2 separate regions of the Homo sapiens genome follow, and region 1 is linked to region 2. Evidence: fine-mapped expression QTL. A gene starts in region 2. The other region holds a variant in brackets. All regions are shown on one strand. Distances are between the middles of the regions. Region 1 holds the start of XRCC1 (X-ray repair cross complementing 1). Region 2 holds the start of ZNF576 (zinc finger protein 576).

What was found.
Region 1: its variant is fine-mapped to the expression of ZNF576 in whole blood (TOPMed, PIP 0.93).

The regions. Positions count from the first base shown.
Region 1 is chr19:43,568,962-43,584,646 of GRCh38, reverse strand. XRCC1 (X-ray repair cross complementing 1) reads left to right here and starts at 9,120. Exons shown (of 17, transcript NM_006297.3): 1 at 9,120-9,239; 2 at 9,645-9,737. The coding sequence starts at 9,189. PINLYP (phospholipase A2 inhibitor and LY6/PLAUR domain containing) reads right to left here and starts at 8,846. Exons shown (of 6, transcript NM_001193621.3): 1 at 7,728-8,846; 2 at 7,386-7,532; 3 at 5,941-6,057; 4 at 3,283-3,435; 5 at 2,944-3,084; 6 at 2,549-2,779. The coding sequence starts at 7,455. The coding sequence ends at 2,646. It overlaps IRGQ (immunity related GTPase Q), which reads left to right. Exons shown (of 3, transcript NM_001007561.3): 3 at 1-280. RefSeq lists enhancers at 4,373-4,432, 7,694-8,219, 8,220-8,746, 8,747-8,906 and a silencer at 9,007-9,166. The variant C/T (reference allele first, on the strand shown) is at 9,112.
Region 2 is chr19:43,588,182-43,603,866 of GRCh38, reverse strand. ZNF576 (zinc finger protein 576) reads right to left here and starts at 7,272. Exons shown (of 3, transcript NM_001145347.2): 1 at 7,124-7,272; 2 at 6,674-6,773; 3 at 2,710-5,036. The coding sequence starts at 6,758. The coding sequence ends at 4,609. It overlaps IRGQ (immunity related GTPase Q), which reads left to right and starts at 7,733. Exons shown (of 3, transcript NM_001007561.3): 1 at 7,733-7,885; 2 at 8,527-9,058; 3 at 10,500-15,685. The coding sequence starts at 8,529. The coding sequence ends at 11,841. RefSeq lists enhancers at 7,238-7,657, 8,058-8,127, 8,313-9,109, 14,044-14,133.

The DNA.
Region 1 (15,685 bases), 19 kb after region 2:
ATTAACTAAATAGGTGATTGTTCTAAACCACTAAATTTTGGAGTGGTTTGTTATGTAGCAAAAGCAACTAATACAGACTTGTTCTCTCTGTGTGTGATGTGGTCTCTTTCTCCCCAACAACATGACCCAATGATTAAAATCTTAAATTCTGCCACTTTTTAGCTGTGTGACTGCCAATGTGACAGCCTTCTGAGCCTCTGATGTCTCCTGAAAACAGAGATGTGAATAATAGTGCCTATGACATAGAGTTGTGAAAATAAAATGAAAAACAGCTTCTTAAGGGGTCATGGTGGTCATTTGTGCTATTAATGAAACATGTCCAGTTCTCTGCCTTCTGACCTTGGGGCAGGATCTCACTTCCTGGTGCCCATGTGGCTGGGTGGGCCATGTGACTAGCTCCATCCAGTGACTTGTATTATGTCACAGCATGTGATTACCCATGGTAGACTTCCTGTGACACAGAAATTGGCCACATTCAAGTTGGTGGATGCTTTATTTATTTATTTATTTAAGACAGGGTCTCACTCTGTCACCCAGGCTGGAGTGCAGTGGCAAGATCTCGGCTCACTGTGGCCTCCGCCTCCCGGACTCAAGCAATCCTCCCGCCTCAGCCTCCCAGGTGGCTGGGACTACAGGCGTGCACCACCACGCCTGGCTAATTTTTTTTTTTTTTTTTTTTTTTGTATTTTTGTAGAGACAGGGTTTTGCCATGTTGCCCAGACTGGTCTCAAATTCCTGGGCTCAAGTGGTCCTCCTGCCTCGGCTTCCCAAAGTGCTGGAATGACAGGCGTGAGCCATCGTGCCCTGCCGGTGGCTGATTTATGACTATGACGAGGAAAACACCCTCTGGATAGTGCTAGGGTGAAGGAAAAGTTTACCTTTTGTGAATGGGCAGTCATTCAGCAAATATCCACTCCTCTCCCTTCTACTGGAGGGGGAGTATATTTCCCTGCTCCACTGATGGGTTTCACCATATGATTTACTTAATGGAATTTTAGCAGACCTAACCTTAGCAAGGCCCTTAAGTGCACTTGGCTTTTGTGCTCCCGTGATGTGCCATGAGAACATTTGCGAGGGAGCTGCTGATCCCAGAAAATTGTGGAATCTCATGGAAGAGACCTGAATCCTCCCGAACTGGAGCCAAAGCAGCCATCCCACAAACCCTTAGAAGAATGCTTGTTGGTATAAGTCTCAGTTTTCATGTTGGGAGGCCGAGGTGGGTGGATCACTTGAACCCAGGAGTTTGAGACCAGCCTGGGTAACATGGGGAAACCCTGTCTCTACAAAAAAATTACAGGAAATAGCTGGGCATGGTGGCGCATGCCTGTAGTCCCAGCTACCAGGGAGGCTGAGCGGGGAGGATCGATTCAGCCCATGAGGTTGAGGCTGCAGTGAACTGTGATGGTTTCACTGCACTCCAGCCTGGGAGACAGAGTAAGACTCTGTCTCAAAAAAAAAAAAAAAAAAAAGAAGTCTCAGTTTTAGGATGATTTGTTACATAGCATTATTACAGTGTTAGTTAATACAACTTTGTTGTTTTAAACCACTGAGATCAGGGACTTGTTTTGTTACTGTAACATCTAGTCTGTCCCAATTGATGTCAGTGTTTAGCACCTGTCAACTAATGGCCACTCAGTAAGTGGCAGCTATTATGATGATTACTGTTTACTCAGGCATACATTGTCTTTAGAATCCACATGTGGTGCTAGGCATTGCACTAAGCGCTTTTTAAGTTGTCTTTCATTTGACTCTTACAACAACCTTATGAGGTTATAACTATTAATATCTACATTTTGCAGACATGAACACTGAGGCAAAAAGAGGAAGCAGTTAATTGAGAGAGATGATCATGGACTCTGAAGTATACCAGACTCGGGTTCAAATCAAGGTTCTGACCCTCCCTGGTTGTTTGACCCAAGGCAAATTTTGACACCCACAATCTATGCCTCAGTTTGTTCATCTGTAGAGTGGGGATAATAATATCAACCTCACAGTTGTTATGATCATGAAATGAGGTATAGCATGGAAAACACAGCACAGGGACCTGGCAAAGACTAATCCCTTCATAAAAGGCAGGGCCACCAGGCATGGTAGCTCACACCTGTCATCCCAGCACTTTGGGAGGCCAAGGATCGCTTGAGCCCAGGAGTTCAAGACCAGCCTGGGCAATGTGGTGAAACCCTGTTGCTACAAAAAAATTAAAAAATTAGCCAGTCATGGTGGTGCACGCTTGTAGTCCCAGCTACTAGGGAGGCCGAGGTGGGAGAATCACCGAGCATGGTGGTGCATGCCTGTAGTGCCAGCTACTAGGGAGGCTGACGTGAGAGAATCACCTGAGCCCGGGAGGTCGAGGCTGCAGTGAGCCTTGAATGCACCACTGCACTTCAGCCTGGGTGGCAGAGTGAGACCCTGTCTGAAAAAGAAAGAAAGAAAGAAGGCAGGGCCTTCCCTCTCTTCCTCAAAAGGAGGGGATTTGAAATGAGGATTGAGACCCCCTATTTCCTGCATTCTATCTCATCAAGATACATCACACCACAAGGACTCAGGCTTGCTCTATTAACTTCTTTATAGGCACACGGGGAGTTACAGGCTGAGGACAAATGGGGACTTCACACTACATTATCTTCCTCTGTTCAGATAGCTTTTCAGGGGGAGTGAGTGCACTCTATATGATGGAGGAAGAGGACATTGGTGCCTGTGGGTACTTCAGCACCAGGCTTGGTAAAGCACATACTCTCTGTAGCACAGCCCCGCATAGCAAATCTGGGTTTGAAAATACCTGAAAGGGAGATTTCAGACTGGAATCAGGGACCTCAGCCCCTTCTTCCTCATAATCCCAGAACACATCCTCACCCACTTCTCTGGAACCCTCTCCTCCCATCGAACCTAGAAGTTTGGACCTCTAGTTCTGTTTCCTTTTCCAGAGATTCAGGCACCACTCACCAGCCTGCACGTGTCCAGATAAGGAGACGCAGTGGTTTTCCTTTCCAGTACAGTGGGTCATGGGCCCCATGCATTTGTCCCTGAAGCTCGCAGTGCAGGCGGGGCACATCAGGCCATTCTCAGTAAGATTGGTCAAGGGAACTGAGGATGAGGATGAAGTGTAAGGTGAATAGGGATGTTTAAGCCGTTCCCCCAACCTCCCAACAACCCCGGGAAACACCAGGGTTGCTAATAGACACTGCATTTTACAGGTAAGGAAACAGGCTCAGAGCCAGCAAGTGGCTACAGCAAGGGTCAGTGGAGAGCCAGAGCACACACCACACACCACGGGCTTCTTACCAGACAAAAAGGCACTGTTGCAGCCGTCGCTCTGGCAGCAGAAGGAGCTGGTTACCATGTGGTCCTTGGGGCCCATGGTGGTGGATATAACGCCGGAGTAGCAGTCCTGGGACCTGATGCAGCCCTTGTAGGTGTGCACCAACTCCTTGCCCTCTGTGGGATGGGGACAGGCAGGGACAGTGCTGGCTGACCACTCCCTGGCTTCAACCCCTGCCTCAAGGTCTTGCCTAACCCTAGGCCTCCCCAACCCCACAACTTCCTGGGATGGTCTCTTTCTTTTTTTTCTTTCTTTTCTTATTTTTTTTAGACGGAGTTGCCCAGGCTGGAGTGCAATGGCGCGATCTTGGCTCACTGCAACCTCCACCTCCCGAGTAGCTGCGATCACAGGCGACCGCCACCATGCCCGGCTATTTTTTTGTATTTTTAATAGAGACGGGGTTTCACCATGTTGGCCAGGCTGGTCTCCAACTCCTGACCTCAGGTGATCCGCCCGCCTCGGCCTCCCAAAGTGCTGGGATTACAGGCGGGAGCCACTGCGCCAGCCCGGCCGGGGCGGTCTCTTTCAAGCCCCCTAGAGCCATGCGGCCAAATCTGTCTGGTGCATGGCCTGGAGTGCTTTCTTAGGTAGCCCTCCCTCCCGCTGCCATAGCCCCTAGTCGGCCTTTGGTGGTCTCTTCCAGCTCCCCATTGCCAACCTCAGCCTGCTGGATGTGGTCCCTTCCACCCCACCCCACCCCACCCACGGCCACCCCTCTCTCCCTGTCCTTCCGGGATTACTCTATTTCAGGCCGCCTATGGCCACCCCCATGCCTTCGTGAAATGGTCTCTTCCAGCCTCCTCAACTCCCCGCCAACCCCCGCCCACCCCGTAGTCTCTTCCAATGAACCCCGGTCCCAGCAACAGGCATCCTCCTCTCTCAGATCCTGCCATGGTCACTCCTCAGACCTCCCAACGAGGGTCTCTTGCTGCCCCTCTTGGCTATTTTCAGGTCTTGTTTAAGGTGGGTTCTTCCAGTCTCCCCGGCCTTCCCCCTCCCCACCATGTGGTGGTCTCTTCCTACCCAATTCACAGGTTCCCCCTTCACTCCATCGAGGGGTCCCCCAGCTCTCTCTCCTCCCTTCCCGAGGGTGCGTTTCCTCTTCTATGCCGGGATGGGGGTTCTCTTCAAGCCTTTCAGGTCCTTCCTTAACCCACCAACGCTGGCTGGGTGATTTTCGATCTCACTTTCCTTTCACAGCCTCTCCCGACCAGTGTTTTCTCCCTGCACCCAAAGTCGCCTTTATTCCCTCACCAGGCCTCATCATCTCTCCTCCTGTGATTGAAAGTCTCTTTCAGCTTTGTATAAACATCTCTGTCCCCCACTGGTCTCTTCCATTGCTCCCTTTCTCCTCCATCATTTTTCAGGTCTGGGGTGGTCTCTTTCATTTAACTCATGCCCATCTTCTCTCTTCCATTTTATTTTCTGAGACAGGTTTCCCTCTGTTGCCCAGGCTGGAGTGCAGCGGTGTGCACTTAGCTCGCTGCAGCCTCGATCTCCTAAGCTCAAGTGATCCTCCTGCCTCAGCCTCCCAAGTGGCTGGGACTACAGGCATGTGCCACCATGCGCAACTATTTTTTTTTTTTTTTTTCTGTAGAGATGGATCTCTTTTTGTTGTCCAGGCTGGTCTCAAACTCCTGGGCTCAAACGATCCTCCCACCTCAACCTCCCAAAGTGCTGGGATTACAGGCGTGAACCACCGTGCCCGGCCTCCCTTTCATTTTACTCATCCACATCTCCCCCTCCCTGTCTCTGCTTCTCCTCTTTACGATGATTTGCTCAGCCAGGCACGGTAGCTCATGCCTGTAATCCCAGCACTTTGGGAGGTCGAGGCGGGAGAATCACTTGAGGTCAGGAGTTAGAGACCAGCCTGGCCAACATGGCGAAACCCCGTCTCTACTAAAAAATACAAAAATTAGCCAGGTGTGGTGGCACGCACCTGTAATTCCAGCTACTCGGGAGGCTGAGGCAGGAGAATCGCTTGAACCTGGGAAGTGGAGGTTGCAGTGAGCAGAGATCGCGCCATTGCACTCCATCCTGGGTGACAGAGCGAGACTCTGTCTCAAAAAAGAAAAAAAATGATTTGCTCCATACTTCAAGGTTATCATCCATCTCCTGTTTGGGGTGATCCCTTTTCTGTCTCTTCCACCACTCCAACACTCCACCATCATCTCTCCTCCCTCGGTCAGGAATGACCTCTTCCCTGATTACACTTACACTTTCCCACCCCAGCCCAGCCTCTTCCTTCTCTATCCACTCCCCACCATTTCCACCTCCTGCCAGTTAGATTCTTCCCCTCTCACTATTTCTCTGCCCCCCACAGTGTCTTTCCTTACCCCTCTTCTGCCTAAGAAAGTCTATTAACTCTCACCCCTCCCACATTTTCCTTCTCTTTAGGACAGTGTCATTTTCAGAATTCTGTGACAATAATGATTTCTATCACACCACTTATTTCTGTTCCCTCCATCTCATGATGGTCTTTCCCTCTTTCCTGCTCTCCACTGATTTCTTCCCACGCTCCCGTCTTGAGAACCATGATGATCCCCCCTCAGCATGGTAGTCTCTTCCACCCTGAAGGTACACCCCACCTCCCCACCAGGTCCCAGGCCACATCCTCTTACTTGAAGTAGCCTTCCCGACCAGGAGCACACATGTGTCCTTGTCACTGCTGCAGGTCTTCATTTGGCCATGGCACCTGCTCCCCGCCGCCGTACATATTTCGCAGTGTAGTGGGCACCCTGCAGTGTAGACAGAGGGCGAGGCTGTAGTCATGGGTGGTGTGGTCTTCGGACCACGACTTTGACTTAGGACTTTTGTGTCCTGAGAGAGGAGGGACCAGCAGCTCCCTGGTTTTTCATGGGCGGGATGTTGACCACTGCCCAAGGAACTGTCCAGAGTTGGACGAAGAAGCAGTGGTGATGCCAGCAAAGCTGCTTCCAGGGGCGGGAAGCGACTCCACCATGAAGCCTGTTTGCCTAATTACATGGCTGGGGATTTTGGATGCCAGGGTCCGCTGAGAAAGCTCAGGGGCAGGGAGGGGTCGTGATGGAGGTTTCCATGGACTTTTGTGAAACTTCAGGTCCAGCTGGTTCTTGAATGTGGGATTCTCCTCCTTGAAGGTGCCATGTAGGTCTTGTAGACAGCAGGAGCTCAGGCAGGGGGCCCTGAGGCTAGGGTCTGCATCCCAGGTCAAGGAGGGAGAGTGAGGACCAGGAGGGCAGAGGACTTGAACTTCTTGGTTCTGAGAGAGGGGACAGCTAGGGGCCCAGAAACCTGGGTCCTGGGGAAAGTGAGGCTTACTTGGACTCCTGTGTGCAGGGGAGGAGGGGGCTGGGGCCTGAACTTCTTAGTCTAAGGAGAAAGGAAATCTCTCTACCTCTTTTAAAAAAATATATCATATGATATTAATGTATTTTTTTTGAGATGGAGTTTTGCTCTGTCACCCAGGCTGGGGAGTGCAGTGGCACGATCTTGGCTCACTGCAACCTTTGCCTCCCAGTTTCAAGCAATCCTCTCACCTCAGCCTCCCAAGTAGCTAGGATTACAGGCGCCCACCACCAAGCTCAGCTAACTTTTTTTGTATTTTTAGTAAAGACGGGGTTTCACCATGTTGGCCAGGCTGGTCTTGAACTCCTGACCTCAAGTGATCCACCTGCCTCGGCCTCTTAAAGTGCTGGGGTTACAGGCATGAGCCACCGCACCTGGCCTTCTCCCTCTTTTTTTTTTTTTAATTATATTTTTAAAGATTTCCCTTTCCAGCCATGCTCTCATCTGATTTCCTAGAATTGAGATGTGTTTGGGATCCTTCCTGGAGGATGGAGGATTCAGAGCCCACCAAGCCCCTCTCTCAGGGATCCAATCACAGGAGCTTTTCTTCTCTGGGACCCCCAGGCTTTCTCTTCCTTTACCCTTGGCCTCTTCCATGAATCTGAATTTCCAGAATGCCTCCCCGTTCACCTTGAGGACTTGCTGAAGGCTCTTTCTCTCTCTATATCTCTCTCTCTCTCAATCTGGGACCTCTCTCTTCCTGAGGTCCCAGAGACAGTTCAGGTCCCTTGTCACTTACCAAGACCCAGGAGGGTGCAGAGCAACACAAAGGCCAGCAGAAAGGTCTCTGGTCTCCTGGAGAGCCTCATGGTGTGTGTATCAGCAGTACCTGGTCCCCAGCTTTTATAGGAAGCTGAGGAGGGGTGGGTCTGGACCCACATTCACCCTACGGGGAGAAATAGCTGAGGTCAGAACCCAGGGCAGTCCTCTGTGGCCTCCGGGTTGGGAAGGCAGAACCAGAATCCAAAAGTGACCTGGGCATCTTGTGCCCAGCCCCCCACCTCCATGGAGACCCCAGGAGTCTGGGCTTCCATCCCCCTCTTCTATTAGAACCCAGAAAGTCACCACCCTGTTTTCTCACCTTCCCACGGCCCATTGTTGTTTGTTTGTTTGCTTGAAGACCAAGACGGAGTTGGGCCTCTTGATTCCCAGTGGCTGCAAGAACTGGGATTCCCTCTCCTTCTCTCTCTTCCCCTCTCCTCCCAAGGAAGCACCCAGTGTGGGTAGGGCCCCACCTTGGAGCACCCAGCATGTCCAGGCTGGTCCTGCGGGTGCGGGGTGCCTTGTCTCCCTTCCCCTCTCTTCATGTGCTCGGCTCACACTCCTTGTGTGTTTGGGCTGTCTCCAGCTGCGACCCCACCCAGGGCTGCACCCTTGGGTCTCCAAGGCACCGAATGAACAGAGGGATGTCTGTCGGCAGTCATAGGCGGGCGTAGTAAAAGACAGATGCCCACAGTCCACATATTGGGAAACTGAGGCTTTTGTGGAAGAACTCCAGGATAGGGGTGTGTGTGTGTGTGTGTGGTGGGGGTTGGGCACATGCTTTGTGTTATATTTAGGACGCAGAACCCTTCTCTTTTGGCCTCAGGCATAAGGCTGAAAGAGATCTGCTAATTTTTTTCGCGCGTGCGCGCGCGCGTATGTATGTATATGTGCGTGTGTGTGTGTGTGGCAAGGGGACAGAGAGAAGAGTGCAGCCGCCTGAGCCATTTGAAGAGATCCTGTTGCGTAGAATCCAGGTTCCCTACGAAACTACGAAAATTCACTCAGATTTGCTGTCCTAGCCCAGCGCAGTCGCTCACGCCTGTAGTTCCAGCACTTTGAGAGGCCGAGGCAGGTGGATCGCTTGAGCTGAGGAGTTCGAGACCAGTCTGGGCAACATGGCAAGACCCGCCGCCCTCTCACCCCATGTCTCCACAAAAAATACAAAAATTAGCCGAATGTGGTGGCGCGTGCGTGTAATCCCAGCTACTTAGGAGGCTGAAGTGGGAGGATCCCTTGGCCCCAGGAGACAGGGGTTGCAGAAAGCCGAGATCGTGCCACTGCACTCCATCCTGGGTGAGAGAGCAAGACCCTGTCTCAACAAAAAATTTTTAAAAAATAAAATAAATAATAATACAGCAAAAAGATTTGCTTTCTCGGCTTCAGTGTGGGCGGTAACTCCATCGTGCAATGAGAAAGGCGAATTTCTTCCAGACACCAATCCCGGAGGTCGCTTCTGTTGCTAGGCTCCCAGAAAGCAGGGTTCGGACGTCATTGGGAGGCGAGGCTAGAGCGGGGTTGTGTGTGGCGGAGGGAGGCGGGGCTGGAGGAAACGCTCGTTGCTAAGGAACGCAGCGCTCTTCCCGCTCTGGAGAGGCGCGACTGGGCTTGCGCAGTGTCGACGCCGGCGCCGGCGCGCCGGGGTTTGAAAGGCCCGAGCCTCGCGCGCTTGCGCACTTTAGCCAGCGCAGGGCGCACCCCGC[C/T]CCCTCCCACTCTCCCTGCCCCTCGGACCCCATACTCTACCTCATCCTTCTGGCCAGGCGAAGCCCACGACGTTGACATGCCGGAGATCCGCCTCCGCCATGTCGTGTCCTGCAGCAGCCAGGACTCGGTGAGGGACCTGCATGGGGGAGGTTGGAAGACGTGAGGGAATTAATGAGGATAGCTCTTAAAAGAGCTTTTGGGGTTCTCTTGGAAGTCTAAGGAGAGTCATGGGGGGATTTCCAGGAGGCTAAAAGTGAATTGTGGAGAGATGTTGAATTAGGGACGTTCCGGCGTCTAGGGAACTTCCGGAGAGAAAAGGAGGAATAGGGAAGCTTTCTTGGAGAGCCCATAGGTGAACTTCCACGGGAAAGTGTTGTAGGGGAAACTCCAGGCAGAGTGTCGGGGGATTAACGGGAGAGCTTAAATCTGGGGGTCGTAGAGGCCTTGGGAGGACTCAAAGGAATCATCTGAGAGCTGGAGGCCTAGCTGTCATCTCTGTGCCCTAATTCTCCTCTCCCACTGTTGTTTCCAGACTCACTGTGCAGAAAATCTTCTCAAGGCAGACACTTACCGAAAATGGCGGGCAGCCAAGGCAGGCGAGAAGACCATCTCTGTGGTCCTACAGGTGATCCTGCCACCCCACCTCCTCCTCACTAGGAGTCTGGAGTCCGGGGTTCCAGATTCTGCTCCTGAGCCAACTGGCAGTGGGTTTAGTCACTTTCTTTGCTGGGCCTCAGCTTCCTTACTCGGAAAATGGGCAGCATAATCCCTGTGCCCCTCAGCAGAGAGGAAAGGAGACCCAAGGATTAAGTCCAGGATGACCACAGGAATCAGTGTGTGGTCCTGGGCAGGTGGCATCTACTTTCTGGGTTCCAGTTTCCTCAGCTGGAACAAAATGAATCATTGCCACGTACTCTGCCTCCTGCAGCCAGTGGGCTCAGGGCTGGAAGGTGTCCAGGAAGGTCGTCTAAGCCAATCAACTCCACTTTAAAGAAGGGGAAACTGGCCGGATGCCGTGGCTCATGCCTGTAAACCCAGCACTTTCAGAGCCTGAGATGGGAGGATTGCTTGAGCTCAGGAGTTCCAGACCAGCCTGGGCAACATATCAAGACCCTGTCTCTATTTTTATTAAAATAAATAATTTTTTTTAAAGAATAATAGCCAGGTATGGTGGTTCACACCTGTAATCCCATCACTTTGGGAGGCCGAAGCTGGAGTATTGCATGAGCCCAGGAGTTTGAGACCAGCCTGGGCAATACAGTAAGATGTCATCTCTACCAAAATTTTATAGATTAGCTGAGTATGGTGGTGTGCACCTGCAATCCCAGCTACTGGCGAGTCTGAGGTGAGAGAATTGCTTGAGCCCAGGAGATGGAGGCTGCAGTGAGCTGAGATTGTGCCACTGCACTCCAGCCTGGGCACCAGAGTGAGACCCCCAAAATATAAAAAATAAAATAATAATAATGAGAGCTGGCATTATTCAACGTTACCTGTCAGTCGCTGCTCTACACACCTCACTCACATGGATTAGCTCATTGAGTCCTCATAAAAAACCCCAAGAGGCAGGCTCTGTTATCCCCACTTTTACAGATGAGGAAACTGAGGCCCAAAGAAGTTATACAATTTGCCTGACAGTCAATCTTTTATTTATCTGTTGAGACAGAGTCTCACTCTGTTCCCAGGCTGTAGTGCAGTGGCATGATCTTGGCTTGGCTCACTGCAGCCTCTACCTCCTGGGCTCAAGCGATCCTCCCACCTCAGCCTCCTGAGTAGCTGGGACTGCAGGTGTGCACCACCATGCCTGGCTAGTTTTTTTTGTATTTTTTTAGAGATGGGGTTTCCACCATGTTGCCAGGCTGGTCTCAAACTCCTGGGCTCAAGCGTTCCTCCTGCTTCAGCCTCCCAAAGTGCTCGGATGACAGGCATGAACCATTGTTCCTGGCCTGGGGGCTGCTTTATGACTATAAGGAGCAGAACACTCTGTGGATAGTGCTAGGGTGACGGAAAAATTAACCTTTTGTGAATGGGCAGTCATTCAGCAAATATCCACTCCTCTCCCTCCCACTGGAGGGGGAGTATATTTCCCTGCTCCATTGATGAGTTTGACCATATGATTTACTTAATGGAATTTCAGCACATCTAACTTCAGCAAGGGCCTTAAATGCACTTGGCTTTTGTGCTCCCATAATATGCCATGAGAACATTTGCCAGGTTACTGCTAATCCCAGAAAACTGTGGAATCTCATGGAAGAGACCTGAATCCTCCCAAACTGCAGCCAAAGCAGCCATCCCACAAATTCTTATAAGAATGCTTGTTGGTATAAGTCTCAGTTTTCATGTTGGGAGGTCGAGGTGGGTGAATCGCTTGAACCCAGGAGTTTGAGACCAGCCTGGGTAACATGGGGAAACCCTATCTCTACGAAAAATTATAAAAAATAGCTGGGCTTGGTGGCGTATGCCTGTAGTCCCAGCTACCAGGGAGGCTGAGCGGGGAGGATTGATTGAGCCCATAAGGTTGAAGCTGCAGTGAACTGTGATGGTTTCACTGCACTCCGGCCTGTGAGACAGAGTGAGACTGTATCTCAAAAAAAAAAAAAAAAAAAAAAAGAAAAGATCTCAGTTTTAGGATGATTTGTTACACAGCATTATTACAGTGTAAGTTAATACAACTTGGTTGTTTTAAACCACTGAGATTAGGGACTCCTTTGTTACTGTAACATCATCTGGTCCACCCCAATTGATGTCAGTGTTTAGTGCCTGTCAACTAATGGCCTCCACTTCCCAGGTTCAAATGATTCTCATGCCTCAGCCTTCTGAGTAGTTGGAATTTACATGCCTGGCTAATTTTTGTATTTATAATAGAGACCGAGTTTTGCCATGTTGGCTAGGCTGGTCTTGAACTCCTGACCTCAGGAGTTCAAGGCAAATGAGCACCAAATGCTAATTTAAGTGATCCACCCACCTTGGCCTCCCAAAATGTTGGGATTACAGGCATGAGCCACTGCACCTGACCTCAGTCTTTTAAACTGTGATAGATACAGATTGCTGACAGTTTTAGTCTTGAGATCTAGATTCAAGCCCCCAGCTCTTCCTCTTAATCGGTGACCTCAAGAAAATTGTTTCATTTCTCTAACCTGTTTTCTCATGTGTCCATTGGGAATAATGACATCCAAGCCCGGAGTTGTGAAAATTCGGTGACATAATGTCTGCACAAGTGCTCTGTCAACATGTAGGTGTTTGTGTAGAGGGAGGGATTTGTGTTTTTATTACTTAGTGGGTGATGATTCCACTGGGCTCTCTTATGATCAAGTGACTCCAGGGAAATCACATTTCATTCTGTTACCCCAGTTGCTGTGGAAACAGAGTGACTGGAGGCAGAAGAGACAGAACCTGTCTCTGGCCTGGGAGAGACTGAGGGAGTATTGCAGCGGTCACCAACATGGTAAACCCCAGAGGGAGCAGCTTGGGGAGGTGATGTGTTTCAGTTGGGATGTCCAGGTTTGATGTGACTTTGGGACATTCTAGGGGTGGCATCCAGGAGGCAGTTGGGGATCACATGTGGAGCTGAAGACAGAATGTGGGGAAGTTGTCAGTGCAGAGAAAGAACCTATAGACTCGGGAGTAGATGATGGATTTATTTGTTCATTCACTCATTTATTTAGTCAAGTATTTATTAAGTGCCTTCTGTAGGCCAAGCACTGTTTTAATACAGCAGTACACAGCAGAAGACAAAAAATATTCACTCTCAGTGGGGTGCAGTAAGCTCACGCCTATAATCCCAGCACTTTGGGAGGCCAAGGCCTGGCAGTTCGAGACCAGCTTGGGCAACACAGGGAAACTTCATCTCTACTAAAAATACAAAAATCTGCCAAGCGTGGTGGCCTATGCCTGTGGTCCCAGCTACTCCAGAGGCTGAGGCGGGAGGATCACTTGAGCCTGGAAGATCAAGGCTGTAGTGAGCTATGATCGCACCATTGCGCTCCAGCCTGGGCAACAGAATGAGATGCTGTCTCTTAAAAACAAAAGAAATTCAGTCTTGTGGAGCTTTCACGTTAGTAGGGAAAGACTGACAAATGAGTCAGTGAAACATATGTTGGATGATGAGTGCTATGGAGGAACTTAATGAAGGGGAATGAGAGTGCCCCAGCTGGAGCTGGAGCAGTGGCAAGGATTTTTATTTAAATAGTAGGGTCCGGGAAGGCCTCCCTGAAAAGGGGACATTTGAGCAACATGAGCTATGTATGTATCTAGGGAAAAGACTCTGAAGCTGGCTTGTGACAGCAAGGAGGCCAGTATGGCTGGGGTGGAGTCAGCCAGGGGGAGAGAGGTAGGAGATGAGGTAACAGGGTGGGACTGGGAACCCCTAAAAAACCACTTAAGGCCTGGAAAGCCATTGAAAGGACTTGAGCTTTTACTCCAGGTGTGAGATAGGAGCCACCGGAGGGCTCCGAGCAGAGGAGGGACAGGATCTGCCTTAGGCCTTCACAGGATCCTGCTGGCTCCATGTTGACAATCAACTGCAGGGGCCACACACAGGAGTGGGAGATCAGCATTGCAGCAGTTGTTTTGTTAACTTACTCCACGTCAGAGACCCTTTGGAATGACTGATTGCATCTGGCAATGACTAATTTGTGGGGTTACTCTGGATTCATCAAATGCTAATTTTGATTCTTTTGACGTAACTGATAAAGGCAGACATTTCTGGCCACCAAGGCAGTAGGCTTATCTCTGGGTTGTTATGTTATGTTTTGAGACAGGGTCTCACTCTCTTGCCCAGGTTGGAGTGCAGTTGCAAAGTCATGGCTCACTGTAGCCTCAACCTCCTGGGCTCAGGCAATCCTCCCACCTCAGCCTCCCAGATAGCTGGGACTACAGGCGTGTGCCGCCAGGCCCAGCTAATTTTAAAAATTTTTCGTAGAGATGGGGTCTCACTATGTTGCCCAGCCTGGTCTCGGACTCCTGAGCTCAAGCAGTCCTCCTGTCTTGGCCTCCCAAAGTGCTGGCATTACAGGCATGAGCCACTGCACCTGGCCACATCTGTGGGTTCTTCTACTACCCTGCATTTTCTCCTCTAATTATTGTTATGCAAAATCTCGATCTTACCACATGGGGCTTAGCCATCTGCTTATGACAGCCCCACACACCTGGTTGTTTGCAGTAGCCACAGCAGGCTCTGTTGTCTGTTCATCACCTGCTCCCAGAGGGAAATGCCAACCTCTTTGCTAACTACTCCTGGGCTGGAGGGGTGGCTTGGACAAGACCCAGATATAACTCTGGTGTGTCACTGGAGGTGTGTCATTTTTAGAAGAAATGTTCATCAGCAATAGGGCCTATGGTCATTTTTGATTGTTATTGGTTTTCTAATCACTCAGTTCGCCACTGTGGTGTCTTAAATTTGTTTTTACTGTTTTTTGATGTGTAACATACATAGAGTGAAGTGAAGGTGTAAGTAAGAGTACAGCTCAGTGACTCTTTGCAAACTGCAGCCCTGTGTACTCCACACCCAGATGCAGCACAGAACATGCCTAGCCCCCAGCAGTTCCCTCAGGTTCTTTCTGTCAGTACCCCTGCAAGGGTAACCACTGTCCTGATTGTTAACAGCATAGATTCATTTTGCCTGATTTTGAATTGCATATAAAATGGAATCGTGTGGTATAAACTTTTCTTATCTGGCTTCCCTTGTTATGTTTGTTCATTTCATCTATGTCGTTCAGTGTAGCTGTAGATGATTTATTGTGATTTTTTTTTTTTCTGAGACGGAGTTTCGTCTTGTTGTTCTGGCTGGAGTGCAATGGCACAATCTCAGCTCACTGCAACCTCCGCCTCCCAGGTTCAAGTGGTTCTCTTGCCTCAGCCTCCCAAGTAGCTGGGATTACAGGCATGCACCACCACGCCTGGCTAATTTTTTGTATTTAGTAGAGACAGGTTTTCACCATGTTGGTCAGGCTGGTCTCGAACTCCTGACCTCTAGTGATCCACCTGCCTTGGCCTCCCAAAGTGCTGGGATTACAGGCATGAGCCACTGTGCTCGACTCCTATTGTCTTTTTTTTTTTTTTTTGAGACAGGGTCTCACTATGTTGCCCAGGCTGGAGTGCAGTGGCACCATCTCAGCTCACTACAGGCTCGACCTCCCGGGCTCAAGCGATCCTCCCACCTCAGCCTCCTCAGTAGTTGGGACTACAGGCATGTGCCAGTTCACCAGTCTAATTTTTGTATTTTTTTTGCAGAGATGGGGGTCTCACTGTGTTGTCTAGGCTGGTCTTGAACTCCTGGACTCAAGCATTCCTCCTGCCTCAGCTTCTTAAATCCTTGGGATTACAGACATGAGCCACTGCACCTGGCCTATTGTCATTTCTGTATAGTATTCTGTTGTATTGAGATAACTATTATGGTTTTATTTATTTATATTTGATTTTCTTTTTTAAACGGAGTCTCACTATGTTGCCAAGGCTGGTCTTGAACTGTTGATCTCAGGTGATCCCCCAACTTGGCCTCCTGAGTAGCTAGGACTATAGGTGCACACCACCACACCCAACTAATTTTTTTTTTTTTTTTTAAGCTTTTTGGAGGCA
Region 2 (15,685 bases):
GAAAATTGTGAGATCTATATTGCTGAACCCCCAGTTCCCATGGGGATAGTGGTTTGTTGGTGCTGAGAAGGAGTCACTTTCTGTAGGGGAGGCATTCACTCTTATGTGCCCAGTCACCAATGCCTCACATCTGGACACCCCTACCCTGCCTGCTTGGCCCTGAAGAGCATCTGCTTTTTTTTTTTTTTTTTTTTTTTTTGAGACGGAGTCTCGCTCTGTCGCCCAGGCTGGAGTGTAGTGGACATGATCTCAGCTCACTGCAGCCTCTGCATTCTGGGTTCAAGCGATTCTCATGCCTCAGCCTTCTGAGTAGCTGGGACCACAGGCGCGGTACTACCACCCCCGGCTAATTTTTGTATTTTTAGTAGAGATGCAGTTTCACCATGTTGGCCAGGCTGGTCTCGAACTCCTGACCTCAAATGATCCGCCCGCCTTGGCCTCCCAGAGTGCTGGGATTACAGGCGTGAGCCACCGTGCCTGGCCAGCATTTACATTTTTGACACCTATTACAGGATTTCAGACCAAAGCATTTTTCAAAACCCACGTTTCTCATCCCAGAATCTCCAAACCTGACATTGATACACTCTGAACTGAGACTTTCCTAGCCACTATAGCTTAGCATCATGGAACCTCAGAATCATCAGCAGAAATTCCAGGCTCATTAAAACAACAGAGTCTTAGTCCGTTTGTGCGGCTGTAACAAAATACCTGAGACTGGGTAATTCATAAAGAGCAAAGGTTAATTCCTCATAGTTCTGGAGAGTGGTTAAGTCCCAGGTCAGGGAACCAGCAGATTTGGTGTCTAATTAAGGGTTGCTCTCTGCTTCCAAGTTGGTGCCTTCTTGCTGCATCCTTACACAGTGGAAGGTGGCAGAAAGGGATGAATGCTGTGTCCTCAGATGGTAGGAGAGATGGAAGGGGAGAAGGCCTAGCTACTTCCCTTGGGTCCTTTTCTAAGGGCACTTATCTTGTTCATGAGGGCAGAGCCCCTGTGACTTAACCATCTCCTAAAGGCCCCATGTCTGAATACTATCACATGGGGTCTTAGGTTCCCAACATATGAATATTAGGGGGACACATACATTCAACTATAGCACATGGATAAGTGTGATCATAGGTTTTGTTTCCTGGAGCAGCACCCCATCCTGTCTTCTGCCATAAGACAGGACTTCTAAGGACAAATATAGAGAATTTCCATCCATTGGCAAATATTCCTAAGGATCACAAGAGGCACTATCAATCAGGAGTTGGGTCATTCAGCCAGCACCCATTCAGGATATGGAGTCAGGCCAGGCATTCCCCAAAGAGGATTTAATACAGGGAATAGTTACACAGGTGTTAGAAGGCTGAAAGTCAGCCAGGCACGGTGGCTCACGCCTGTAATCCTAGCACTTTGGGAGATCGAGGTGGGCGGATTGTTTGAGCCGAGGAGTTCAAGACCAGCCTGAACAACATGGTGAAACTCCATCTCTACAAAAAATTAGCTGTTCATAGTAGTGCACACCTGTAGTCCCAGCTACAGGGAGGGAGGTGGAGGTGGGAGGATCATCTGAGCCTGAGGAGATCAAGGCTGCAGTGAGCCAAGATCTTACCACTGCACTCTATCCTGGGCTACACAGCGAGACCCTGTCTGAAGGGGAAAAAAAAAAAAAAAAAAAAAATGAAGGCCAGGTGCAGTGGCTCACACCTATAATCCCAGCACTTTGGGAGGCCCAGGCGGGCAGATCACTGAAGGCCAGGAGTTTTGAGATCAGCCTGAGCAACATAATGAAACCCCGTCTCTACTAAAAATACAAAAAATTAGCCAGTTATAGTGGTGCACACCTGTAATCCCAGCTACTCGGGAGGCTGGGGCTGGAAAATTGCCTGAATCCAGGAGGCGGAGGCTTCAGTGAGCTGAGATCACACCACTGCACTCCAGCCTGGGAGACAAAGTGAGACTCAAAAAAGAAAAAAGAATTTAAGAGTGCACAGTTTACTAACATGATGGCAATGGTGGTGCAGGTTGGGCCGCAGGAGTCCTGTTGACCCATTTTAAGTTTGAGATCTCCATTTGTTTATTCAAGTGGTTATATCTTATGTCTGGGGTTTGGGCTGCAGATAAAGATGTGGATGTCATCAGTGATGCTATTTAGAGAATCTGTGATGTCTGGAGAGAACAGGAAGCCCAGGGTGTACTTGGGCAGGCTGCTATCTTGGGAGAGCATGTGGGATTAGATACTTAGGTTTGGTTTAGGGGAGCCACTGTGGGGGTAGTGTGACAATATCTGGGTTGGAAACTTCGGAGCATTCACCAGGAGCCAGAGGAAATATCTGGCTCTTCATGAAGTTGGTATCTTGAAAAAAACTGATGGTCTACTAACTCCAACCAGTCTCCCCATAAGTCACCCCAGCAAAGAGATCCAGGGTAGCCCTGCCCCAAAACACACACACACACACATACCCTACCTACCTACCTACCTGGTAAAGATGGTGGTTCCCAGGATGGAAATTTCTGCTTCCAGACTCAGAGTAGGTTGAATGTCTTATTAGACCAGGGGTTGGCAAACTTCTCCTGTAAAGGGCTAGATGGTAACTATTTTAAGTTCTGTAGGCCTTAAAATCTCTGTTGCAACTATGCAGATCTGCTGTTCTAGGCAAAAGCAGCCATCAACGATACATAAGTGAATGAGTATAAAACTGTTCAAATAAAATTTTATTTGCAAAACCAGGCAGCAGGCTAGAGTTGGCCATAGTTTGCAGACCCCTGTCTTAGGCTGTAAATTCTGTTGCATGTGACAGAGACCCAAAATAATGGTGGCTTAAATAAGATAGAAGTTTCTTTCTTAGATAGCAATATGGAAGTGGGCTGGTATGGTGGCTGTGCTCCTTGAAATTGACGAGAGACCCAGGCTCCTATCTTGTTGCTCTGTCTTCCCACGTGTTGCTCTTATCCTTATGGTCTGAGATGGCTGGATACCATTTCCGTATTACAGTTAGGAAGGTGGAAAAAAGGTATGTCCCTTTCTTTTCTTTTTTTTTAAACAGTCTCACTCTGTCACCCAGGCTGAAGTGCAATGGCACGATCTTGGCTCACTGCAACCTGTCTCCCAGGTTCAAGCAATTCTCCTGCCTCAGCCTCCCAAGTAGCTGGGATTACAGGCATATGCCACCACACCCGGCTAATTTTTGTATTTTTGGTAGAGACAGGGTTTCACCATGTTGGCCAGGCTGGTCTCAAACTCCTGACCTCAGGTGATCCACCGGCCTCAGCCTCACAAAGTGCTGGGATTACAGGCGTGAGCCACTGTGCCCAGCCGTCCCTTTCTTAAGCTTGACTGTTCTACCCAGGAATTTAGCCAGAAATCAGTCACAAGGCCACATCTAGCTGCAAAGGAATCTGGGAAATGCAGTCTTTTCAGCTACTGTGTGCCTAGCTAAAAACAGAGACAGTGATCAGTCTACCACATCCACCTCACCTGTGGGCTTTAAAAACATCCCTCAACATAAACAGAGTCTATAAGTATTATATGCAAGGCATCGACCATTGTCTGCAGGTGCAGGGCAGGTAACTAAGGGGGTAAAACTGGCCTGGTGGGACTCATCTCCAGTTGAGGGTGACACCCACTGCTCCCTCCAGCCTGTTGTAACTTCTGTCCTGCCCCTGCTGACAATGTCAGCCTAGGTTGGGCCTTTCAAGAGAGCTGAAAATAGGATCTTAATGGGAAATCTCCCAGTGTTGGCCAAATAAAACCCGAAACAGAAGGTATCTCTGTTTGATTCCAAACCAGTTTCCCCACAAAGCGAGGCCAACTCTGGCCTGAGTTCCCCCACCTGCCCACACCCTTATGTTCTCTGGAAATTCCCACTCAAAAGCCAGAGCTCCCTGTTTAGACATTTTAATATGGATGTTTTCTGTTTTTAGATACTATTCCTGTTAGCTTATTCATACCATTTCACCTACACATATGAAAAAAATATTTCAGGACTAGAATGATATACAAAATTATTTCAACGAGACATAAATTATCGGGGGACTAGTGCCATCTAGTGCCATGGCCCCTCTAAGTGAGGATGGCAGGGGGTGGAAAAGAGACACAAGGACTCCAATTGCTACCCCCACTCAATTGGGGTCCAGCTCCCAACTTTGCTGCCCCATCCCCAAAAGCCCAAGTTGCTCCACATCTGGAACTCACCTGGTGGCATTACAGGCCAGCAACACCTCACCTTTCCTGCCCCCATTCAGGCAAAGGTCCAGGGCAATTTGCTCCCATAGCCCATGGCATCCATCTGGGAAGAATGAAGGGTGATGGCACAATCTGCAGCTAGGTATTTAACTGGGAATAAGGGAGACACAAACCATTTCTCTCCCGCACTCCCTTCCCATTTTTTTTTTTTAACAAAAGATCTCATTATTATCTGATTTCACTGTCTCACGAAGGCCCTGTGTGCTCCAAAGACTGAAGCTCTAAATAAGAATCTTCTGGGTCCTCTTTATTAAGAGCCCTCTGCCTTCCCAGGGGAGGGAAGCAAATCCTTCAGGGCCCCCAGAGTTCCTGCACCCCATATCATGGGTGAGTCCTACCAGCCACAGAGCCACCCGTCACCGTGGAGAGGCTTAAGCTGCACTCAGAGCTCCCCCCGGGCATGCCGAATGTAGTGTTGATGCAGCCCTGCTTCCTGAGCAAAGTCCTGACCGCACTCTGTGCAGGCGAAGGTGCCAGGAGGGGCACGGACCTCATGCATCTGGCGGTGCCGCCTCAGAGAAACAGCCTGCCCAAAGGTCTTGCCACAGTCAGGACAAGGGAAGGTGGGCTGGGCAGTAGTGGTTGCAACCGGCAGGGTGGGCTTGGCGGCTGGACCGTGGCTGCGCTGGTGGGTGATTAGGGCTTTGGAGGAGGGGAAGGAGCGGGCGCAGGTGAAGCAGATGAAGAGGACCCCCTGCAGCTTCTGGGCCACGAAGTCCGCTGGGTGCTCCCGCTTCATGTGACGCTCCTGGAACTTGGAATCTGCGAAGGTGATGAGGCAGCGGGTGCACTTCGGGGCCCCCAGGTGGCCTGAGGAATGTGGGGGAGAGGTCAGGGGAGGCCAGCAGGAGTCTCCAAGACCTCTTCCTGAACCCCAGAATCACACCAACAATTAACATTGAATGTGTTATGTGCTAGGTTCTATGCTAATGCTGGACAACCAAACAGGAGAACTGTTCTTGCACCTATTTTATGGATGAGCAAACTGAGATTCAAAGAGGTTAGGCAAGTTGCCCATAGTCATGAGGCTAGGAAAGGAAATGGTGGAGCCAGGGTTGGAACCCAGAGAGTCAGCCTGCCCAACAGAGGGGTATGGTGATTACAGCACAGCCTTTGGAGCCAGACTGCTTGGGATTGAATCTCACCTCCACCACTTCCTAGGCAATTACACCAGTTTCCTTATCTGGAAAATGGGCTAATAACAGTATCTACTCCATAGGACCGTTGGAAGGAATAAATGAATTGCTGTACAGTCATTTGCAATTATGACTAATGATACAGAGAAATCCAGCCCGACATCCAGGATCTGGCCTGGTACTCACAGCTAGACCTTGGTGTTCTGTTGAACATAAATTTTCACAGAATATCAAGGACAGACAAGGCCACGCTGTGACTAAAATGAATCAAGACAAGACTACATCATCATAATGTCTGAGCACAGACAAAATATGAATACTGTCCAAGCAGAAAAATGACCAAACATCCTCCTATCCTGGCTAATGTGAATGTCTGCTGCTGCTTTATCAGTCAGAGCTTGAGCCTCGCCTCCTTCCTTCCTCCTTCTGGGTAAGATTTATTACGATAGCCAATCATAGAATTGCCCCTGCTTCCTGGTAGCATCCAATCCAGAGCAAAACAATTTTGCTTGAACCTTCCCCAAAATCACCACCCACAAGCCCAAATCCTGTGTCGTTTTTACCATTCTTAGTGAGACACCCCACAGTCCCCCCATGGTCTGTGTTCATTGCAGTGAGAAACCCAACGTGTTCAACTGCAGGTGTGTTCCTGGTAGTCTCTGGCTCAAGGGCATTGAGACTACAGCTCTTGTTACAAATACCTCTCTCTGCCTCAGTTCCCAGTTTAAAGGGCCTATTATTAGAAGGACTCAATGAGATAATGAATGTTAAAATGGTTCATAATATGAGAATAAATACACCTAGCTCATAATAAAACACTGAGCAGGAGGTGTTGCTATTACATGTCAAACTGGCTACCATCATTAACCCCTAGCTTTCCCCTTTGCTGCAGTTAATCCCATACCCACCCTGTGAGGTGGGAAGTACCACCCTCTTTTGACAGTCAAGGAAACCAAGGCCCAAGTTACACTGAAAGTCTAGGGCAGAGTTGGGACCAGAATCTTGGGGTTTCTCTCCCAATAGAACCATTCCCAGCCACATCTCCAACCCAAGCCTCTCCTGGAAGCCACCCTATCCCTCTGAATGCATAAGCATTGCAATCCTGCTTATGTGGCCAGAGGAGGGTGAGTACTCTGGCCACATAAGCTGGTGTGAGGAGATGCACTTCCTGCTAGAGCAGCTCAGGGACCATTACAGCCCCTTCTCAACAGGCAAAACTCTGTGGCGCCTTGGACACCGAAGTGCCACAGAGATCTTAGCATCAGCTCCTGCACCCCACCCTCCTCTAGCCCGCCAGCCATGTGTACTCACAGATGTTGCCTCCTGGGCTCTGGGGACTTCTCTCCTTGGGTGAATCCTGCTGCTTCATGTTCTCTTCAGGGTTCGGGTCCTCCATGGTGCTGGGACCCTTCTAGTCAGGAGAGGAGCGTGCATAAGTGAAGCTGTTCATCTGTTACCAGTCTTAGAGGGCACCCTAAGTCTATGACCTTTGACATCGCCAGAGGCTCTCCTTGCCTGCCTTTGACCCCTACGACATACTATCTCCTTGAACTCTAATTGATGGAGTTCTTGCTAAAAGAAGCTTCAAACCTCCCAAAGGACTGGATTTCCTGGGTTTGGGACTCCCCTAGAGTCTTCTCACTGGTGTGACCTATGACCTGCTGCATCAAACTAACTCCCTGAACTCAGCGTGGAAGCCTTGATCTTTGACACCAGCGTCATCCCAATCTCAAGTGTCTTGGGGCAGGTAGTGATACCCACCCTTTATCCCAGTTCTTCCCGGGAAACATCCTCTGACATCCTGTGATTTTTGTTCCGCCCAGAGCCCCCGCCTCCCACGCGCGCTTGCAGCTGCTATCCCGCTACCCTCAAGCGCTGCCTACAGGTTCCTGCTCCCAGGCCTCAGTTTTCCTCCTTACAGCAGAGGGCTGCCTTTCGCTGCGCCTGTCAGCCGCTGGCTACAGCGCCGCCCCAGAGAGAAGTGGGATAGGGACCACTCAGTCTCAGGGCCCCCGTGGTTTCCGCGCCCTTTTGCCAGATGAGCCTCTCGGAGCCGAGATCCCGGATTTGCCATCCGGCAGTAGTATAGTCGCACCAGCCCGGTCCTCAAAATAACGGGAGGGGTCCTTCTCTGCCCTATGGCGCGTTTGATGACGTTCAGCCTCCCGCGGCTTAGCTAGCTAAGCCTTTTGCGCATGCGTGGGTAGGCTCTCGTGGCGCGCAGGCGCGTTGACTCATTCATTGTTCTAGGCCCTGAGGCCGCCAAAGAGGGGCGTGCACACTTCGGCCGTTCTGCGCAGGCGCGGCGAAGGGCTGGGTCTCTGCTGTCGGCCTTCCAAGACACACCCCCTTGGGAGAGGGAGTGACGTCAGGTTAAAGCTACCGGGACGGGTCCCGGCATCTCTAAATCACCGCTCCCTGGCCTCTTCGGCCTCCGTCCGCCGCGGCCCAGGGGCCGGGCTTCTCAGCTGCTGACCTACTGCCACCGACTGCGCTCTCTCCCGTGGGTCGGCTTTTTGCTCGGTTGGTGATTTGGAAGGGGGAAGGGGAAAGATGAAAATAACAATGTGTCCGAGGGAGGAGGGACTGGAAGCCAGATTTCTGAGGTTTTATTTTTATTTATTTTTCAGAGAGGGTCTTGCTCTGTCGCCTGGGCTGGAGTGCGGTGGTGTGATCACGGCCCACTGCAGCCTCCAAGTCCTGGGCTCAAGCGATCCTCCCGCCGCAGCCTTCCGAGTAGCTGGGGCTACAGGCGCACACCACCATGCCCGGCTAAATTTTATTTTTTATCGAGACGGAGACTCTACCAGAGAGTCCCCCCACATGTTGGCCAGGCTGGTCTCGAATTCCTGGCCTCAAGCGATCCTCCGGCCTCGGCCTCCCAAAGCACTGGGATTACAGGCATGAGCCACCGCGCCTGATTTCAGAGTTTTTGAAGCAGAAAGGGAAACGTTTCCATCTAGAGGGAGGGCGGACAGACAGGACGCCTGGGATTCTGGGGGAATAGGGTCTGGGCTCTGGATTTTTTAGGTCCTGGAGAGTGACACTCAAGAACCGAAGGGGACAGGGTGAAGGACTGAGGCCTGGGTTCCGAGTGGGGCGGCTAGGAAAGGAAAAGGCTAGGTGCTCCCTGACCCAGGTCTTCTCTACCCGTTGCTTTCCAGCCATGCCTCCGCCGCAGGGTGACGTGACCGCCTTGTTCCTGGGGCCTCCGGGCTTGGGGAAGTCCGCGCTGATCGCAGCGCTGTGCGACAAGGATGTGGAGACGCTCGAGGCCCCCGAGGGACGGCCGGACTCCGGGGTTCCCAGCCTAAGAGCTGCGGGCCCAGGCCTTTTTCTGGGCGAGCTGAGCTGCCCACCCGCAGCGCCGGGGCCCTGGGCGGCGGAAGCCAACGTGCTGGTACTGGTGCTGCCCGGACCCGAGGGGAACGGGGAACCGTTGGCTCCAGCCCTGGGAGAGGCAGCGCTGGCCGCCCTGGCCCGAGGGACCCCGCTACTGGCTGTGCGGAACCTCCGTCCTGGGGATTCACAGACTGCCGCCCAGGCCCGTGATCAGACAGCAGCTCTGCTGAACAGCGCGGGGTTAGGAGCTGCGGATCTGTTTGTGCTACCGGCGAACTGCGGCAGCAGCGACGGCTGCGAGGAGCTAGAGCGCCTCCGGGCGGCGCTGCAGAGCCAGGCAGAAGCGCTGCGGAGGTGAGTGCCGGCTTTCTGGCTGGGTCCGTTAGTCGAGACCCTAGGCACCTAGGTGCGACCATGGAGGTCCATGAGATCCCTCCCCCAGTGAGTTTGGGGCAAGGCTTAGCTCTATTATTATTATTTTTTTTTTTTTCCTGAGAGACAGGGTCTCGCTATGTTGGCTAGGTTGAATTTGAACTCCTGGCCTTAAGCAATACTCCCGCCTCAGCCTCCCAAAGTGCTAGGATTACAGGCGTGAACCACCACACCCGGCCTTTTTTTTTGAGACAGGTTCTCACTCTGTCGCCCAGGCTGGAGTGCAGTGCCGCGATCCTAGCTCACTGACGGCCTCCACCTCCTGGGCTCAAATGATCCTCCTGCCTCAGCCTCCAGAGTAGCTAATACTACAGGCTGCAAAACAGCATCTCACTGTTTCCCCAGGCTGGTCTTGAACTCTTGGCCTCAAGCCATGCCCCCACCCAGGCTTCCCAAAGCCCTAGAATTAAAAGGGAAAGGCTTAACACTTTATCTGCTGGGGCCCTGAGGCTCCTTTTTCCAGGCCCTGCCCCCACCAAGGTGATCCACCCTCCTTGGCCTCCCAAAGTGCTGGGATTACAGTCGTGAGACTCTCTGCCCAGCCCCCTGGAAGATTTTACCTGAAAACTCTAATCTTTGAGCCCTCCCCACCATCAGTTTTGTTTTCAAGCACCTAAAGCCACACCCGCAATGAGCTTTATTATTTTGGGGCATCCTCATCTACCTCCTTTCTCCAGCTCCCTCTTGTTTCTGTGCCCACTTGCTGGCTACCTCCTGGATTTGCTCTACCACCTGCCAGCCTCCTCATTTTAAAGACTTTAAAACGAGGCTCAGAGAGGGACAGTCCCTTGTCCCAGTACACTGTCATCTTTTTTCCTTAGCCTCACCTGCCCGGGAGTCACCTTAGCCACTCCCCCTTGGTAAGAACTGGTAGATGAGATTTCTCCCCTCACTGACCCTCCTTAGGCCCAGCCCCTGAAAAGAGTGCCCTTGGGGACCTTGTCTCAAATAGTGCTGGACTTGTGTTTAGGCCACAATACAGTTGCGATTCTTTGTTCTAGGCCCCACCCTCTGTGAGCTTTGTCCCACCCAGCACAGCCGACCCTTGGAAAAACCCCGCCCCCAAATACTGTATTCCATGGAAGTTTTAGCCCAATCCCCATTTTAGGCTGGGGTGGGAAACCTGACCTTATGTCCACCCGTCCAATAATCAAGACTCCATTATTGCTTGAAGCCCCACCCATATCATCACTGCCTCTCCCTATCTGGTTTCTATTTGCTGTGCCATCAGTCTGGCCCTTCCCTTTCCTACCCCTGCCCCATTCTGGGATCATTAGGAAAGCTCTGCCCTTGTCATCATAGCCCAGTCCATGTCACCCAGCCCCTCTTCTACCTTTGACCCTGTCCCTTCTTGTCCCCACAGGCTCCTGCCACCGGCGCAGGATGGCTTCGAGGTGTTGGGTGCAGCAGAGCTAGAGGCTGTGCGTGAGGCCTTTGAGACCGGCGGCCTTGAGGCTGCGCTGTCGTGGGTGCGCTCAGGCCTGGAGCGCCTGGGCAGCGCACGGCTAGACCTGGCCGTGGCTGGCAAGGCTGACGTGGGCCTTGTGGTGGACATGCTGCTTGGATTGGATCCTGGCGACCCAGGCGCTGCGCCTGCTTCGGTCCCCACAGCACCCACTCCCTTCCCAGCCCCAGAGCGCCCGAATGTGGTGCTCTGGACCGTGCCTCTGGGCCACACGGGCACTGCCACCACCGCGGCCGCCGCCTCTCACCCAACGCACTACGACGCCCTCATCCTCGTCACCCCTGGGGCCCCCACTGAGAAGGACTGGGCCCAGGTCCAGGCCTTGCTGCTACCAGATGCGCCTCTTGTCTGCGTGCGCACAGACGGCGAGGGCGAGGATCCGGAGTGTCTGGGAGAAGGCAAGATGGAGAATCCCAAGGGCGAGAGCTTAAAGAACGCAGGTGGAGGGGGATTGGAGAATGCACTCAGTAAGGGAAGGGAGAAATGTAGCGCTGGATCGCAGAAAGCAGGCAGCGGGGAAGGTCCTGGGAAAGCTGGCAGCGAGGGTTTGCAGCAGGTTGTCGGCATGAAGAAATCAGGTGGTGGCGACTCAGAGCGGGCCGCTGCGTTAAGCCCGGAGGACGAGACGTGGGAGGTGCTGGAGGAGGCGCCGCCGCCAGTGTTCCCCCTACGGCCTGGCGGACTCCCAGGGCTATGCGAATGGCTGCGGCGAGCGCTCCCCCCAGCCCAGGCAGGGGCACTGCTGCTGGCGTTGCCACCAGCATCTCCCAGCGCTGCCCGAACCAAGGCTGCGGCGTTGCGAGCCGGGGCGTGGAGGCCAGCTCTGCTGGCTAGTCTGGCGGCGGCGGCGGCACCACTCCCAGGGCTGGGCTGGGCATGCGACGTGGCACTTCTGCGGGGTCAGCTGGCGGAGTGGCGACGGGGCCTGGGGCTGGAACCCACGGCACTGGCTCGACGTGAGCGTGCCCTGGGCCTGGCTTCTGGAGAGCTGGCAGCGCGCGCTCATTTCCCAGGCCCGGTGACGCGCGCCGAGGTGGAAGCAAGACTGGGCGCCTGGGCGGGCGAGGGCACTGCTGGGGGCGCAGCACTGGGGGCTCTCTCCTTCCTGTGGCCTGCGGGTGGTGCAGCGGCGACAGGTGGCCTGGGCTACCGAGCGGCTCACGGCGTCCTGCTGCAGGCTCTCGATGAGATGCGGGCTGATGCTGAGGCTGTGCTGGCACCCCCTGAGCCTGCCCAGTGAGGAGTGGGAGGGGGCTTGGGAGTCCAGACTCTGACAGGGGATGCCTGGGCTTAATCCTGGGTGCTTGAAGGGGATGTGGACTCTTGACTTCCAGCTGGGATGTGTGACTTCTTATCACCTGGATTCAGAGAGTCTGGGGGACAGGAATCCTGATTTTTTTTTTTTTTTTTCTTTTTTTTGTGAGACGAAGTCTCTTGTTGCCCAGGCTGGAGTGCAATGGCGCGACCTCGGCTCACTGCAACCTCCGCCTCCCGGGTTCAAGCGATTCTCCTGCCTCAGCGTCCGGAGTAGCTGGGATTACAGGTGCCTGCCACCACACCTGGCTAATTTTTGTATTTTTAGTAGAGACGGGGTTTCACCATGTTGGCCAGGCTGGCCTCGAACTCCTGACCTCAGGCGATCGACCCGCTCCGGCCTCCCAAAGTGCTAGGATTACAGGCGTGAGCCACCGCCCCTGGCCAGGAATCCTGATACCTTTGGGAACCATGGTGAATGACATCTAGACCCTTCTGTCCTGAAGGGAGTTGGTGGCCCAGACTCTAGCAGGGACTATGTCTTTGTCTCCTAGGGAGTAGAAACTGGAGTTACTGGATGTTTAGTCCTCCAGGGAGGCTGGTAGAAGTCCTGTTTCCTAATTGGTGGGGAGGTGTCCATGACTGGGACCTGAACTCCAGTATAGGGGAGGGAGACCTGAGCGCCCCAGGGAGCTGGAACTCTTGGGCTTCAGAGCCTCAGAGGGAAACAGGGTCTACATTTCTCTGGGAGAAAAAGCCTGCACACAGGTCCCCAAGGAGCAGTGGGCTTTGAATCTTGATGGGGTGGCGGAGGCCCCTGGGGTCTGAGACTTCCGGGGTTCTAAGATGGCTGTGGACCTTGGTTCCTAAATATTGGGTAAGGGGAGGTCTGCATCTGGAGGAGGGATCGGGGGCTTGTGCGAGAAAGCTGGAGACTTCTTGATCTCTCCTGGGGAGTGGATGGGTTTCTATAATTGCCCTCCAAAAGCATGTAGGGAGGGTGGTCCCACAAAAATGAGGTGAGGTGGGTAAGAGGTCTGGGCATGGTGGGCTCTGGGAGTAGCCAGGGACCAGGAATGAGGTCTTTTGGGTGTGGAAGGGCAGTAAAGCATACCTCAGAGACAGCTCCTCCAAACCTTGTATTGGGATCCCGGCAACTGCCTCTGTGAGTGTGACTGGGAAGGGATATGACTGCCTTCATCTTCTAGGTGCTGAGCAATTCAGGTGATCTCTGGGGAGTCTGTTTCTCTGTCTCTTTTCTTTAGGAGTTTCTATCTTTTTTTGGCCTTTTTCTCCTGGTATTTAACCATAACCCTTTATGGCCTTGGTGTTTTGTGCACCTTCCTTTTCAGAAGAGCAGCTGTACTGCTGCACTGGTCCAAACACTTCTGTATGGACACCTCGGGTATCCCCAAGAGGCTCTGCTTTCTGATGTACATAGAGGGTGCTGCATTGAGCCAGGGGCCCACCAAATGGGTGGTCAGGCACTTGAGACCATGGGAATATGCCAGGAGTGAATGAAGCAAAGGCAGAAACCACAGTGCCTGGAATGTTCTAGGCTGCTAGCCACATGTGGGGGAAAAGTTGCAGGTTACAGAATTCTTCAGTGTCAAAAACAGAAAAGGAGGATCTGAGAATCCAAGCGATAGAATCCCTTTTGTCGTAGACAGAAAGAGCAAAGTCCAGAGAGGGCAGGCTTGAGGCCCAACAGCACACAGTAAGGCCCTGTGGGTCTGGCCCTTGCCTATTCTCATTCACTGCCCCTTCCCACTCCTGTCCAGCCTGATAGACTTTCCTTCTTTTTTTTTTTGAAATGGAGTCTCACCTTGTCACCCAGTCTGGAGTACAGGGATGTGATGACTGTAGCTGAGATGACAGGCATGTGCCACCACACCTGGCTAATTTTTGTAGTTTAGTAGAGAAGGGATTTCACCCTGTTGGTCAGGCTGGTCTCGAACTCCTGACCTCAGGTGATCCACCCGACTCAGACTCCCAAAGTGCTGGGATTACAGGTGTGAGCCATCATGGCCGCCTGACTCTTTCTGATGCCTGAGTGGCTACCTTGAGTCCTGCCTGGGGACCCATGCACCTGCTGTTCTCTTTCCTTCAAGGCTCTACTCACAACTTCCTGTTCTACTCTCAAACCTTCCTGTGACGGGCTCAGTCAGATCTCAGCTCACGTATCCCCTCAGAGAGGACTTCCCCTCCCTGACCACCCTATCTGAAGTAGCTCACATTCCCCCACTATTCATTTCGGCCAGTTGAGTTTCCTTGTAGCAATTATTACTGTCAAAAATGATCTTATTTATTTACCTGTTTATTGGCTTTTGACCCGTTGCCTGTCCTGTTCTCTGTTGTTTCCCCAGCATCTAGAACAATAGGTGCCTGACACAATAGGTGCTTCGTAAATATTTATTATTATTATTATTATTTTAGAGACAGGGTCTTGCTCTGTTGCCCCGGCTGGAATACAGTGGGATGATCATGGCTCACTGCCATCTCCAACTCCTGGGCTCAAACGATCCTCCCACCTCCGCCTACAGAGTAGCTGGGACTATAGGTACACAGCACCAAATTTTCTGTAGAGACGGGGGTCTTGCTTTGTAGCCCACACTAGTGTTGAACTCCTGGCCTCAAGTGATCCTCCTGCCTTGATGGGATTACAGGTGTGAGCCACCACACCCAGCCTAAATGTTTATTTCATTGGTCAGTGTCAGAACTAGGATTGGAATTTAGATTGTTAATCTCTTGCCACAAGATAGGAAAATGGAGCAAGATGAGGAGAAAAAAGCATTTAATGGGAGAGAACACCCTTGTCTGAGGTCAGGGACCTGGGAAGCAAGCACGACTTTGCCACTGTCACTGTGTGTTACTTGGACAGTGCCTTATTTTCCCATCTGTGAAATAAAAGAGCTGGATAAGAACCTTAGTTTTGAGATCCTGTCTCCCTTAAAAGCTGAAGACAAAGGTAACTGATCCAAGGGCAGACAAGGGATGGTACCATCATCTCCAGCTTGGACTCCCACTGCTGACAAAATTTGTCCCTTCAAAGTTGAGATAGCTACCATGGGGAAGAGCACTTAGTTCTATACTGAATGGCTCCAGGCATTTTCATGAAAGCTCTTTCAGCTTTGGGGAAGAATATTCATCCATATCTTTACCCCATCATATTAGTGTCTAAGCCCTGCAATCAGGCATGTCAGCCACGTGATGGAATGGGAGGGCTGCAGGGCAGCACTGTCCAGTAGAAACGAAATGCAAGCCACATATGTCATTTTAAGTTTTCTTTTTTTGAGATGGAGTTTCACTCCATCACCCAGGCTGGAGTGCAGTGGCACGATCTCGCCTCACTGCAACCTCCGCCTCCCAGGTTCATGTGATTCTCCTGCCTCAGCCTCCTGAGTAGCTGGGATTACAGGCATATGCCACCATGCCTGGCTAATTTTTGTATTTTTAGTAGAGATGGGGTTTCACCATGTTGATCAGGCTGGTCTGGAACTACTGACCTCAGGCCACCCGCCTTGGCCTCCCAAAGTGCTGGGATTACAGGCATGAGCCACCGCGCCCAGCTAATTTTTGTATTTTTATTTTATTTATTTATTTATTTTTTGGGAGACGGAGTCTTGCTCTGTCACCCAGGCTGGAGTGCAGTTGTGCGATCTTGGCTCACTGCAACCTCAGCCTCCCAAGTAGCTGGGATTACAGGCATGCACCATCATGCCCAGCTAATTTTTGTATTTTTAGTAGAGATGGGGTTTCACTGTGTTGGCCAGGCTGGTCTTGAACTCCTGACCTCAGGTGATCCACCGGCCTCAGCCTCCCAAAGTGCT